4 linked regions of the Homo sapiens genome follow. The protein of the gene in region 3 interacts with the protein of the main gene of each other region in a biochemical or structural test. Each region holds a gene or a part of one and is shown on either strand. Other genes may lie near its edges.

Region 1 (3,500 bases), on a different chromosome or scaffold from region 3:
ATAAAAAAAAGTTTTTAACTGCATTGAATTACCACATTAAACTGGGGTTTAAGAACCATACTTCTGTCTCACGTATATAATAACCCATAATCCACAATTTCATTATGTCTTCATGGGAAGACAGAATAAAATCTGCCACAAGGCAATTAACTCTTGATATTATCAGCTTGCCAATTAAGCAATGTTACCATTAGGTTGTTAAATCGGTGTTCAGGCAAAGTCACAAGTTTTCTTCTCATTTGCTTCAAATTCCTTCTCTCAAAAATGTAGTGAGGGCCCATGGTGAGTAATGCCCTACTACCCTATTTATTACTAACAATACATTTTCTTATTGGCTTTCCAGTGGTTTTAATTAGGCAGACCAACTGTACTATCATAATCATTCATGCCAATTCAGATCAATTCCACTGCCCTAGCTGTCAATTGATTGACCTAGTGCCTAAGTGATTCCTATATTTTCTAGTCTTTCTGAACTGACAAGGTGGGACAGAAGTACTCACCCAACATTTGCTTTTGCTCTTGAGGAGGGGCAGATGCCAACATGGAAGCAGTCAAAGGTTCCTGACCTTGTACATGAACAGCAGGCTAGACAGAAAATGAGAACTCTTAAGTTTAAAGCACAGAAAAAGATGGCAAATACAAATAGTCATCAATGGACATCTGCTGAAGTGGTAGACTTCCATCGAAACATGAGGTGGAGAAGTTGAGTGAGCGAATTAGAAAGAAGCCAAAGTAGTTATTATATACTATGTATCACAGATACATTTTTTTTCTTTTTGAGATGGAGTCTCACTTTGTCGCCCAGGCTGGAATGCAACGGCACAATCTTGGCTCGCTGCAACCTCCGCCTCCGGATTCAAGCAACTTTCCTGCCTCAGCCTCCCCAGTAGCTGGGATTACAGGCATGTGCCACCAAGCCTGGCTAATCTTTATATTTTTAGAGCTGGGGTTTCACCCTGTTGACCAGGCTGGTCTCAAACTCCTGACCTCAAGTGATCCACCTGCCTTGGCCTCCTGAAGTGCTGGGATTACATAGAGGTGTGAGCCACCACGCCTGGCCCATAGCTACTTGTAATAGTTGTTTCAGACCAGGCGTGGTGATTTAGGATGTGAATTTCTCGCTGCTTGTCCAATTCCAAAAGCGTAAGACATTTTACATACTATCATATTAGCAGAATGTTCCAGATAGGCTAAGCTCTCAAGAATCTATCATGCAGCTGTCTTCACATTTTTTCTTTTGAGACAGAGTCTTGCTGTCACCCAGCAGGGATTACAGCTTGCTGCAGCCTTAAACTCCTGGGCTCGAGCAATCCTCCTGCCTCAGCCTTCCTAGCAGCTAGGACTACAGGCTTATGCCACCACACCCAGCTAGTTTTCTTTGTGGAGACAGGGTCCTGTATGTTGCCCAGGCTGGTCCCAAACTCCTGGTCTCAAGCAATCTGCCTGCCTCAACCTCCCAAAGTGCTGGGGTTATAGGTGTGAGCCACTGTGCCCAGCTGTCTTCACACCTTTGATTTCACCCAAGAAATGTGATTTTTATTAAGAAATCATTAAATCCATACCTGTTGCATTGTAACTTGTGGCTGTGCATTAAGATGTTGCTGAGGATTGCGAACTCCTGCAGCATATTTATACTGTGGAACGGTGCGGACAGCAGGAGTAGCTGCAGCGGCTGCAGCTGCAGGACGTGGACCCATTGTCTGTGTTGATGTGTTAGCTAAAAAATAAGAACATTTTGTATTTTTATCTTGCTCTTTCAAATTGGTGATCAATTTTTAAAGGAAGGATTAAGACTCACCAACACGCTGTGTTGACATGACTCGTGGAACCTGTGAAGAAGCTGGTCTCATAGTACTAAATGGTGGTCTAGGAGCAGCTGGGCGGATAGCACCGGGCATATTTTGGAATGCTGCATTTTAAAGATGTGAATATACATTAACTGGGAAAACTTACTGAGTGAAAAGTGTTTATGCTGTCTTCTTCGATCTGAGGTTTGCATAAAAGACTAAAAAGTGACAAAACTTTTTAAAGCTGAGTCTTAACACTTGCCATTTTCCCAGACTCAGAGCATCAATAAGTAAAAACATTAATTCATACAAGGACGAGTACTTATATGTAGCGACCAGCCCCACAGGGTCGGTGGGCTTCTCCCTGTATGCAGCGACGAGAGAGTGCAGAAATAAAGACACGAGACACAGAGATTTAAAAAAAAAAGACAGCTGGGCACGGGGGACCACTACCACCAAGACGCGGAGACCAGTAGTGGCCCTGAATGTCTGGCTGCACTGTTATTTATTGGAAACAAAACACAAGGGGCAGGGTAAAGAGTGTGAGTCATCTCCAATGATAGGTAAGGTCACGTGGGTTACGTGTCCACTGGAGAGGGGGCCCTTCCCCGCCTGGCAGCCGAGGCAGAGAGGGAGAGGAGACAGAGAGAAAGACAGCTTACGCCATTGTTTCTGCATATTAGAGACTTTTAGTACTTTCACTAATTTACTACTGCTATCTAGAAGGCAGAGCCAGGTGTACAGGATGGAACATGAAGGCAGACTAGGAGCGTGACCACTGAAGCACAGCACCATAGGGAGACGGTTAGGCCTCTGGATAATTGCAGGCAAGCCTGACTGATGTCAGGCCCTCCACAAGAGGTGGAGGAGCAGTCTTCTCTAAACTCCCCAGGGGAAAAGCAGACTCCCTTTCCCGGTCTGCTAAATAGTGGGTGTTTTCCTTTGACACTTACGCTACTGCTAGACCTCGGTCCGCCTGGCAACGGGCGTCTTCCCAGACGCTGGCGTTACCACTAGACCAAGGAGCCCTTTGGTGGCCCTGTCTGGGCATAACAGAAGGCTCGCACTCTTGTCTTCTGGTCACTTCTCACTATGTCCCCTCAGCTCCTATCTCTGTATGGCCTGGTTTTTCCTAGGTTATGATTATAGAGTGAGGATTATTATGATATTGGAATAAAGAGTAATTGCTACAAACTAATGATTAATGATATTCATATATAATCATATCTAAGATCTATATCTGGTATAACTATTCTTATTTTATATTTTATTATATTGGAACAGCTCGTGTCCTCGGTCTCTTGCCTTGGCACCTGGGTGGTTTGCCGCCCACACTTATAAATATACCTGAAACATAATCATGATAAAATTCTAAGTGCTCCCAGCCTGGCCAACAGGGCAAAATCCCGTCTCTACAAAAAATTTAAAAAATTAGCTGGGCGTGGTGGCGTGTGCCTGTAGTCCCAGCTACTTGGGAGGCTGAGGCAGGAGGATCACCTGAACCCGGGAGGTGAAAGCTGCAGTAAGCCAAGACCATGCCACTGCACTCCAGACTAGAAGAAAGAGTGAGACTCTGTCTAAAAAAATAAACTCTAAGTGCTCTTGGAATATAACATACTGTTCCACAGGACAAGACATAAAATACCACGACTCTGATTCTCATACATGATTAAATGGAACGAGACCTTTAAAACTGTGGCCTGACAAAATATG
Region 2 (3,500 bases), on a different chromosome or scaffold from region 3:
GCGCCTGTAGTCCCAGCTACACAGGAGGCTGAAGTGGGAAGAACACCTGAGCCTGAGCCTGGGGAGGTCGAGGCTACAGATCACGCCGCCACACTCCAGCCTGGGCAAGAGAGAGAGATCCTGTCTCAAAATAAAAAGGGAATGATCTTCACGATCCATCCCAAAACATATTGGAGATAACCCTACCTTTAGCTAACTATCCCCTGAAAAACAAGAGAGTATTTACTAAGTAGAACACATTGTTGGATAGCCATTCCAAATTGCTCTAACTTTGCCAAGCTTAAATGGCAAGGAAGAAACCAATTCCTGGCTCCCCTATTTGATAACTTACATACTTCTGCAGGCTCTTAAGCCAAAATGAGCCAAAATCTTAAAGAGAGTTAAGACTGACATAGACATTAGCAAACATATCACCTTTTTTTCCTATTAACATTGTTGTTCCCCATAAAGGTCTATTCAGCATTTTTTTTTTAGTAGCCCTCTGTAGATATCAAGAAATGCTCATAAATTTAGCCTGTAGTTCCTCAGGCTCAATGGCTTGTGAGAAAAGAAAAAAAAAAAAAAAGTTGGAAATACTGTCTTCTCTTCCACAATGCCCACGAAGCTAGGCAAAGGCAATGATTCTGCATTTAATCACTAGATGAATAAGAAACAGACTTGAATTTAGAAGAAAGATAAAGGACCGCAAGAACATTCAGTAAAGAGTACTGCCTCTATTTCTTTGCAAAGCAGCTCTCAGGATCTGCCAATGAACCTCATTTTGACATGGAACGCCCCATCCACTCTAATCCGGGGCATATCCCTCAAGACACAGTCAGTCAACCGGAACTCTGCCAACTTTTGCTTGGGAGTTGTGTGAAGAATAGTAGCAACAAGAGCCTACTTTGAGAAGGAGATCAACAATCACACTCAAGAAGAAAAGAAGTTATTTGGCAAAGGGATGCATGTTGCCAAAATGTTAGTCACAGCTTCAAGGGCCCAGTTTGTGTCTCTACAACTATTCTTTGCTTTGACAGAGGCCATTATCTGACCCAGGAAACAGCTCAGCTTCTGTCACCCTCCCCATCTGAAGCAGTGAAGAATCCTTTCAATTTGGTAGTATCAAACTGTGACACAGACAAGATGTCCACCAGAGACTAAAAGGGGAGAAAAAATGTGTAATTTGCCACTTTCTACATAGGACTGGCTCAAGCAGAGCAACGGAAAACTGTGACAGGATAGGAAAAATGGAAAATCATTATGTTAAAGAAGCAGGCTGGGCCGGGCGCGGTGGCTCACGCCCGTAATTTCAGCACTTTGGGAGGCCGAGGCGGGTGGATCACAAGGTCAGGAGATCAAGACATCCTCGCTAACAAGTTGAAACCCCGTCTCTACTACAAAAAAAAAAAAAAAAAAAATACAAAAAATCAGCCGGGCGTGGTGGCAGGCGCCTGTAGTCCAGCTCCTCAGGAGGCTGAGGCAGGAGAATGGCGTGAACCTGGGAGGCGGAGCTTGCAGTGAGCCGAGATTGCGCCACTGCACTCCAGCCTGGGGGACAAAGTGAGACTCCGTCTCAAAAAAAAAAAAAAAAAAGAAAAGAAAAGAAAAAAAAAATAAGCAGGCTGTACCAAAAGTCCGCCCAGGAGCACCGAGCCTCCATATGTTATCTCAAAATCCCCTTAAAAAACAAACCAAAAAGGTACACTGTAGGTTGCAATAGCATAATATTAAGCAGGTTTTTACTCCCAAATAAGTACATATATTTTGTAGCCTGCAACTCTTCCTGGGGTTGTAAGAAGACTATGTTTGCTGAAGCTGCCTGAACCAAGAGCCCATGAATTTCACAGTTATTTCAGAGCAGGAAAACAGACTAACATATACCAGGTTACTCTCCCAATCAGAGAACACAAGTAAAGAAAGAACATTTAATAATTTTCTCGGGCCGGGCGCGGTGGCTCACGCCTGTAATCCCAGCACTTTGGGAGGCCGAGACTGGCAGATCACAAGGTCAGAAGTTCGAGACCAGCCTGACCAACACAGTGAAACCTCGTCTCTACAAAAATACAAAAATTAGCCAGGCGTGATGGCACCCAGCTACTCAGGAGGCTGAGGCAGGAGAATCGCTTGAACCTGGGAGGTGGAGGTTGCAGTGAGCAGAGATCATGCCATTGCACTCCAGCCTGGGCAACTGAGCGAGACTCCGTCTCAAAAAAAAAAAAAAAAAACCCAAAAAAAAATTTTCTCTTCAACAGAACAAGACTTCTGTCTCTTGCCTCTTGCCTTTTTTTTTTCCTAAAAACACCTAGTGAGTCTAGAATCTCTTCCCTTCGTAAAAGCCATCAGTAAAACCTGAAAACTCCAATGTTCACACCTCTCCTGCATTTCACCTTGGTGCTATCACATAACTTATCAGTACCAGCTAGGGTAAACACTACTCTAGTATCAAGTGTGAGGTGGAATTAGTAAATGACCAGCCTGGCCAACATGGCAAAACCCTGTCTCTACTAAAAATACAAAAATTAGCCAGGTGGCACATGCCTGTAATCCCAGCTACTTGGGAGGCTGAGCCAGGAGAATTGCTTGAACCCAGGAGACAGAGGTTGCAGTGAGCCAAGATTGTGCCATTGCACTCCAGCCTGGGCAATACAGCAAGACTCTGTCTCAAAATAAATAAATAAACAAATAAAAAAACAAACACTACATTCTACTAGTCTTCATCAATTGACTTCATTCATCTCCACCTTCCCCAACTCTTAACTTCCCTATCTTCATCTTGATGGCAACCAATGTAACACAATATGAAATTTTTACTTTTAAAAGTTGACATTAATAAGAGTTAAAAAACTAAACATGCGGCCAGGTGTGGTAGCTCATGCCTGTAATCTCAACACTTTGGGAGGCCGAGGTGGGTGGATCACCTGAAGTCAGGAGTTCGAGACCAGCCTGACCAACATGGTGAAACCCCATCTCTACTAAAATACAAAAAATTAGCTGGGCGTGGTGGTGCATGCCTATAGTACCAGTTACTTGGGGGACTGAGGCAGGAGAAGCGCTTGAATCCGGCAGGCGGAGGTTGCAGTGAGCCAAGACTGCGCCATTCCACTCCAGCCTGGGCAGCAGGAGCGAAACTCTGTCTCAAAAAAAAAAAAAAAAAAAAAAAAAAAAAAAAACTGAATATGCATCAAATCAAAACCAGTTCTTCCCTGGCTGGCACGCAGACACACACACACACACACAAACACACACACACATGAGCAAGGCTAAGAGGAAGAAACAGAAAAACATGTTTCCTTTTGTTGTTGTTGTTGTTGTTGTTGAGGTGGAGTTTCGCTCTTGTTGCCCAGGCTGGAGTGCAATGGCGCGATCTCAGCTCACTGCAATCTCAGGTGATCCACCACCTTGGCCTCCCAAAGCGTTGGGATTATAGGCATGAGCCAGCGCGCCCAGCCTTGTTTTCCTTTAAGAGACAGGTCGGCCAGGCGCGGTGGCTCACACCTGTAATCCCAGCACTTTGGGAGGCC
Region 3 (3,500 bases):
CATCAACTGGCTTTCGTCACATGTTCCAACTGCGACAGCTGCAGAAGGCCCCTGATCCCACCCTGGGCTCCACATTTTTGCCTCTTGTTTTGAAGAAAACCTATTTTATTCCTGATCGCTCTATAAACCATACTGGTTGTGCCAATCCATGGGAATTCTCCCTTGAATGAGCTCAAAGAACATATGTATATGCAGGGCAGGCACCCAACGTCATTCATACGCTGACCTCATATGACATTAGAGGGCACGGCCATTTTTTTTCATGTGCACATGTTGATTCTTCAGCTGGATCCTAAACCTCTTAAGGGCAGGAACCTTCTCATATTTTTTTTTGAGATGGGGTCTCACTATGTTGCCTAGGCTCACCTCGAATTCCCAGGCACAAGTGATCCTCCCACCTCTGCCTCCCAAAGGGCTGGGATCACAAGCACAAGCCACCGTGCCTGTCCCTTTCTTATACTTCTATTCCGTGGATCATACATTATCTCAGAATCACCTAGAAGTCATGGTAATCTTTACGAAATTTCCAAATACTTATATATTTAATTCCATAGTATAGCCAAGAACAATTTTATAAACACTGCAACGATAGGAAAACATCATAAACTGTGAATCAAAGGCCTCAATTATTTTCTGGTTTTTGTTGTTGTTGTTGTCGCTATTTTTCAGACAGCATCTCACTCTGTCACCGAGGCTGGAGCGCAGTGGTGTGATCTTGGCTCACTGCAACCTCCAGCTCCTGGGTTTGAGCACTTCTCGTGCCTCAGCCTCCAAAGTAGCTGGAATTACAGGCGCATGCAACCATGCCCAGCTAATTTTTGTATTTTTAGAAGAGATGCGCTTTCAACATGTTGGCCAGGCTAGTCTCAAACTCCTGACCTCAGGTGATCCATCCGCCTCGGCCTCCCGAAGTGCTGGGATTACAGGCATGAGCCACCACATCTGGCCATTTTGGTACTTTAAGACCAGTAAGAAATCATCCTCACTCCACCCTATGATCTCATCATCTTCTTCTGCCAAATCCCATAAGCTCCTCAGAGTGGGAGTCTGGTTCTCTACCAGAGAGCCCTCCCTAAACACACAATAACCTGTCACCTCTCTGCCAGTGACATTTCCTCATCTACTTAATGCTTCCATCCAAGATCCTTAGACAACAACATACAAACCTCCTGCCACTCGTTTTCTTTTTCCAGTTTTTGGATGTTCCCACTGAGTCTTCTCCTCGGTGTGACTGTTAAAAAACAAAAAATCCACAGTAATAAGTAAAAATTAACTCTTCTAAAAAGTAATCAATTGTATTAAATTTTTTCTCTCCCAGATAGCCAGATATAAGAAGGAAGTAGGGGGAAGAAGGAGAAAGAGGACTGTGACCCCAGCTACGGGGTCAACTTTAGGAGGTTTGCTGAATCACTCAAAATATCTAGAGGCCGTCGGGAGCGGTGGCTCACACCTGTAATCCCAGCACTTTGGGAGCCCTAGGGGAGCAGATCACAAGGTCAGGAGATGGAGACCATCCTGGCCAACATGGTGAAACCCTGTCTCTACCAAAAATACAAAATTAGCTGGGGACAGTGGCACGTGCCTGTAGTCCCAGCTACTCGGGAGGCTGAGGCAGGAGAATCGCTTGAGCCAGGGAAGCAGAAGTTGCAGTGAGCCGAGATCACGCCGCTGCACTCCAGCCTGGCGACAGAGCAAGACTCTGTCTCAAAAATAAATAAATAAATAAATAAATCTAGAGGCATTTTGCTGTGTATTTGTTTTGGTTTTATTCCACGATGTAGGGACAAAATTCATAATATCTAATTTATATAATCTCTTAAAATGTTTATTTATTTGTGTTTCTTTTTAAAGAATCAGGGTCTCACTATGTTGCCCAGGCTGGACTGGAACTCCTGGACTCAAGTAACCCTCCTATTTCAGCCTCTTGAGTGGCTGGGACTAGAAGCCCGTGCCACCTTGCCCAGCTAAAATGTTTATTCTTTCCACAGATGTAACTTCAAAGTGTTTCATTAAGCACTGGTTCCTAACTGGTCCCAAGAGGTAGTTAAGAGATGCAGTAAGACCTTCCCATAGGGCATCTAGCTGTGCGCTGTGCACCTTTGGTCAAGTGACCCCACTCCTTAATCTCCATCCCCTCATCTGCAAAATGGAAATAATCCTAGCACTGGTCTCAGGGGCTACTATAAGAATATTGTACATCCAGGGTTTCGCATAGCACTTGGCATACAAAAAGCTCTGAGAAATGTAAGCTGTTATTCTGAACAAATCAGTTACACAAACTAGTCCTATTTTTGCGTCAAACTTAACATTTCATTTCAGACCACCACCCAAAGTTATAATTAAAAACATAGGTCAATAACTAGAAACACGTGTCACCAGGTAATAAGGTATCCAGGAAAACATACAATTATTTCAAAAGGGAAACAGCCAGGTGCTACAAGAGGTATTCGAAGGGTAGGCTGCGTTTCCTAAAAGTTCACCTACTCATGCCAACCCAGAAAGTTATATTATTTAATCAGCAACATCTAGATGATAAGATGTGAACATTCTTTCCCTATCAATTATTTTACAGAAAATAAATACAGAGAGCACGAATTTTCTAAAAAATTCTACAACTTGCAAGCAAGGTCTTTTCATGAACTGCTGGCTTCTGGTCTGTTTGACAAAGTCTTGGCAGCTGGGTCTCTGTCATAGTGCAGGAATGCCTCACTCAGCACGCTGAAGACCTGAGCAGCCCATGCTAGCTGAGTCCAGCCAGTCTCCTCAGGGCTACTGCCACCTCACAGAGCTGCTGAAAAGGCGAGACACATGACACCTGTGACAGTGCTTGGAGAACGATTAAAACCTTGTACCAGCTACGGTATCAGTAGCAAGGACAAACTCCTACTTTGTACATCAACCACCATCCAATATCACTTGCAAAAAAAAGCAGCTCTGTGGCCGGGCGCGGTGGCTCATGTCTGTAATCCCAGTACTTCAGGAGGGCAAGGCAGGCGGATTACCTGAGGTCAGGAGTTCGCGACCAGCCTGAACAACATGGAGAAACCCTGTCTCTACTAAAAATACAAAATTAGCCTGGCGTGGTGGCACATGCCTGTAATCCCAGCTACTCGGGAAGCTGAGGCAGGAGAATTGCTTCAACCCGGCAGGCAGAGGCTGCGGTGAGCTGAGATCGTGCACTCCAGCCTGGGCAACAATTGTGAAACTCCATCTCAAAAAAAAAAAAAAAAAACAAAAAAAAACCGTTCTGACTCTCTGGCTCTCTAGTAAGGATAACCCGCTCTCTGCTGGCACAGTGGGAATATTGGTATACCAACTCCTGCTTCTCCTTCAAAATGAATGGCAACAGCAATCAGATAAACCAAGCATTGGCAATAACATGAAACCTTCCAGCCCCTTGCAGAGCTGTGTCTCAAGCTTCTTCAAGAAAGTTAAGAGATGGACTTGCATTTTCCTTGCCTGCCATTAAAAGCAGTCTTTATCTCATAGGCACACATCAA
Region 4 (3,500 bases), on a different chromosome or scaffold from region 3:
AAACAAAAACCTATAGCCAGACTTTCAGATTCTAACAAGAATACTTTTATTATACACGTATCATACACACAACAATTATTTGGGGAACATTTACAGGCAGAGAGTTCAATTCCAAATCTCCATTTCACCCACACACACTGTACTGCACACTCACCTTAGGGTTCAGCCCAACAGGAACGAGACAAAGTTATTGCTTTCTGAACAGAGAGTTTCAATTAAATAGAATCTTCCAAGCCAAGAACAGAGCCCAGCATCCTCTTAATTCTTAATACCCTGTATATATATGAATAAAACCTTATGATGTGTTATAGATTACCCCATCACCATTAAAAGTTAATATTAAAATTGGATCCCATGTCTCAAAAAAGTCGTAAGAAGTGCACCAGTATTTACAGACCCCATTAAATTACGCATAAATAAAATCTGTACACTCAACGCACTGTTTCTTAAAATACAGAACCTCCACGGGGACTTGGGGGTGACAAGCAGCAACAAATTGCTTCGTGCCTACCCTTTTCAAGTTTACTCGAAACATCTGAAATAAATATGCAAATAAAGCTTCAGTACCTTAAAGGAACATGTCATTTCAAAGAGTCTCCCATTTGAAGAGTTAACTTTCAAAGTTAAAAAAAAAAAAAAAAAAAAAGGAGAAAAAAATCAATCAGCAGGCTTCGTTTCTACAAGTTTCCTAAAACCAGAAGGCCCCCGTTTGAACACGGGGTTTAGAGTGTGTCAGATACCACTTATTAACTAGTTGCTAAGCAGATAGAACCTTTGCCTCCTACCAGAGGACTTGATCTCTGAAGAAGCTAGATACACACTTTTCTTTTTTTCAAGGTAAATATTTAGCGGACACAAAAACCAACCATTACCTTAACACTGAAAAAAAAGGTATTGTTGATCTGTTGATCTAGGGCACATCAATTTGACATTTCAATGGCTAAGTGTGTGGGTCTGTTGGCCCAGGGAATGTATTTAAAAGATTCTAAAACTTATAGCACCACTTTCAGAGAAGGAAAGAATGGGGTTCAAAAAAAAAAAGCTTAATGAATAAAGAGCCAGTACTTGTCACCTTCTGATAATAGGTCCAAAGTTAGGAGATAGCTCAGCGCTAGAGAAACAACTAAGAAGTCCAGGGGCGGGTGATGCAGAACCAGTGAAGGCTCTTTAAATAGTAAGGTAGGTAACAAACTCTTCCCCCAGGCCAGGAGGGGTTCCCAGTCTGTGCGGTGGAGAAGGATTTTTGCAGTCCTGTTCCTTCCCTACTCTCCTAACCTTTCTTCGTTCCAATTTTATTTCCTGTGTTTCTCCATTTTCTCCAGGGTTTTGTTAGAATCAGCTGGACTCTGGTCTCCAGGGTTCATGTAGGATTTGTCTATGACAATCAGGGCTTCTTTGATGTAGTTCTGCAGGGCAGACACCGCGGCACAGATGGCCTGGCTGCCAAACCCGTGGGTAATCAGGCTGAAATGAGACAAGCAGTTCTGTATGTTCGTCTCCAAGACTGGGGCGAGCCTGCTGGTCCCATGGGGTGTCCGGTCTTGGCTGAGAAGTTCTGTGAATTCTTTACACAGTTGCCTGTGAAGACAGTCAGTTGACTCGATGAGTTCCATCTAGCTCCTTACAGGTCAAGAGCACAGAACCAACTACACTGAGGCTGGCGCCCGGGAGGCAAGCACAACTGCTTCAACCCGAGGAAGGAGAATTTAATACTAATAGCCAACTGCTGCGCTTAGCAACTATTCTGCGCCAGGCTCTGAGTTAAGCTGTTTTAAAGCACTATCTTATTTAATCCTCACTGCAATTAGAAAAGACAACAGGATTAACTTAACCCCAGCTAACTGGCCAAGGTCACCAGGACTGGTAAAAGTAATGGGGCCTGGATTCCAACCCATGAGCTTAAGGGACAGTTTACCTTGGTACAAGTTGGTTCCAATAAACAAATTCCGTGAGGAACCGGGAGAAGGAAGCATCCCCCTGAAATTCTGACTCCTGACACAGCCTGGTTCACTGCGCTCTCTTTTACCCCATTTCCTGGCTCGACTAGTTCTGCTTCATTTACCATCATTTTCAAATCAACTTACTGTTGGTTTCTATGAGAAAACCCACAGCTGCATTAAGTCGTTTTGGAGACAGTTAATTTGCCCACAAATCCACCCTGATCTTTACATTTGAAAGACAAAAGTCTTGCTATCAGGAGGTAGAAGGCACACAATCTCTCTTTACTGGTTGTGACAAAACAAATCGGGTTTTCAACACATTTTTGTAAGATATGCTAACACAATAATGAAAGGGCAGCTCAACTACTTTGGGTTGAATAACTAAGCAGCTCAAAAATACTCATGGCTGAGTCATGCACTCTTCTAAATCATACAAAAAGTTAATGTATTTGACTTTGTAAAAGAAGCTCCCTTGCCATTTTCTTTTGCTCCACCCTAATTTATTTCAAGAATATTTCTTTGTTGAGCCATCGGGACTGTGGAGGGGGAATCTTCTCAACCTCAAGGTCTAGAGCATTGAGTCATCATCAAATTCAAGTTCAGATACTTACTGGGCCGCCAATAGCATGTTCTTCCTAGCTGCCATCTCATTTCGTCCTCCAAGATGAGGTCTGGTTAAATATTCTGCCACTGGTTTACTAGGAAATTCGGCTTCACAGACATAGGCAAAGTCCCTAGCCAAATGAACAGCTTCACCTAGAATAATCAGCAACAGCTTTTAGGATGGCTGTGGTCACTGAGGCCAAACTGCCCTTTTCCTCTCTCTTTTTTTTTTTTTTTGACACGGAGTCTCGCTCTGTTGCCCAGGCTGGAGTGCAGTGGCCCGATCTCTGCTCACTGCAACCTCCACCTCCGGAATTCAAGCAATTCTCGTGCCTCAGCCCCTGAATAGCTGGGATTACAGACATGCACCACCATACCCAGCTAATTTTTGTATTTTTAGTAGATACAGGGTTTTGCCACATTGGCCAGCTGGTCTTGAGCTCCTGGTCTCAACCAATGGCTCATGCCAGGGATTATAGACATGAGCCACAGCACCCAGCCCCCATTTTCTCTCTTTCTAGTAGTATTCATTGTCTACCAGTCATACGTTGCATGCAAGAACGAAATCATATACAGGGCAGACAACTCAGCTGGTAGGTAGAACTTTCTAGGGATTCTCAGTAGGTCCTCCACCCCAGGAATAGAGGGTGGAGATCACACAATGTGAGCAGAAAAGACCCTGAAACTTCTAACTGCACAATCAAGTCAGCCCTCTGTATCCGTGGGTTCAGAATCTGTATTCATCCAAACTCAGATTGAAAAGATTCGGGGGGGAAATAATGAATGGTTGTGTCTGTACTGAACACACACAGACTTTTGCCATTATTCCCTGAGCAATACAATGTAACAACTATTTACATAGCATTTACATAGTATTAGGTATTATAAGTAAGTGATGCAGAGATGATTTAAACTATACGGAAGGATGTGTGTAGGTTATATACAAATATAACATTT

The links. The genes of interacting proteins can lie anywhere in the genome.
Region 1: the proteins of WWOX (region 3) and PABPC1 form a complex in vitro, tested with the Homo sapiens proteins (one study listed by BioGRID).
Region 2: the proteins of WWOX (region 3) and WIPF2 form a complex in vitro, tested with the Homo sapiens proteins (one study listed by BioGRID).
Region 4: the proteins of WWOX (region 3) and TFAP2C form a complex in vitro, tested with the Homo sapiens proteins (one study listed by BioGRID).

The regions. Positions count from the first base shown.
Region 1 is NC_000008.11:100,705,089-100,708,588, forward strand, and holds part of PABPC1 (polyadenylate-binding protein 1), read right to left. Parts: intron 1,910-3,500; coding exon 1,799-1,909; intron 1,718-1,798; coding exon 1,563-1,717; intron 586-1,562; coding exon 501-585; intron 1-500. UniProt on the Homo sapiens protein: Binds the poly(A) tail of mRNA, including that of its own transcript, and regulates processes of mRNA metabolism such as pre-mRNA splicing and mRNA stability.
Region 2 is NC_000017.11:40,222,304-40,225,803, reverse strand, and holds part of WIPF2 (WAS/WASL-interacting protein family member 2), read right to left. Parts: intron 1-3,500. UniProt on the Homo sapiens protein: Plays an active role in the formation of cell surface protrusions downstream of activated PDGFB receptors. Plays an important role in actin-microspike formation through cooperation with WASL.
Region 3 is NC_000016.10:78,106,154-78,109,653, reverse strand, and holds part of WWOX (WW domain-containing oxidoreductase), read right to left. Parts: intron 1,232-3,500; coding exon 1,167-1,231; intron 1-1,166. UniProt on the Homo sapiens protein: Putative oxidoreductase. Acts as a tumor suppressor and plays a role in apoptosis. Required for normal bone development. May function synergistically with p53/TP53 to control genotoxic stress-induced cell death.
Region 4 is NC_000020.11:56,635,806-56,639,305, reverse strand, and holds the end of TFAP2C (transcription factor AP-2 gamma), read right to left. Parts: intron 2,697-3,500; coding exon 2,552-2,696; intron 1,579-2,551; coding exon 1,293-1,578; 3' UTR 23-1,292; downstream 1-22. UniProt on the Homo sapiens protein: Sequence-specific DNA-binding transcription factor that interacts with cellular enhancer elements to regulate transcription of selected genes, and which plays a key role in early embryonic development.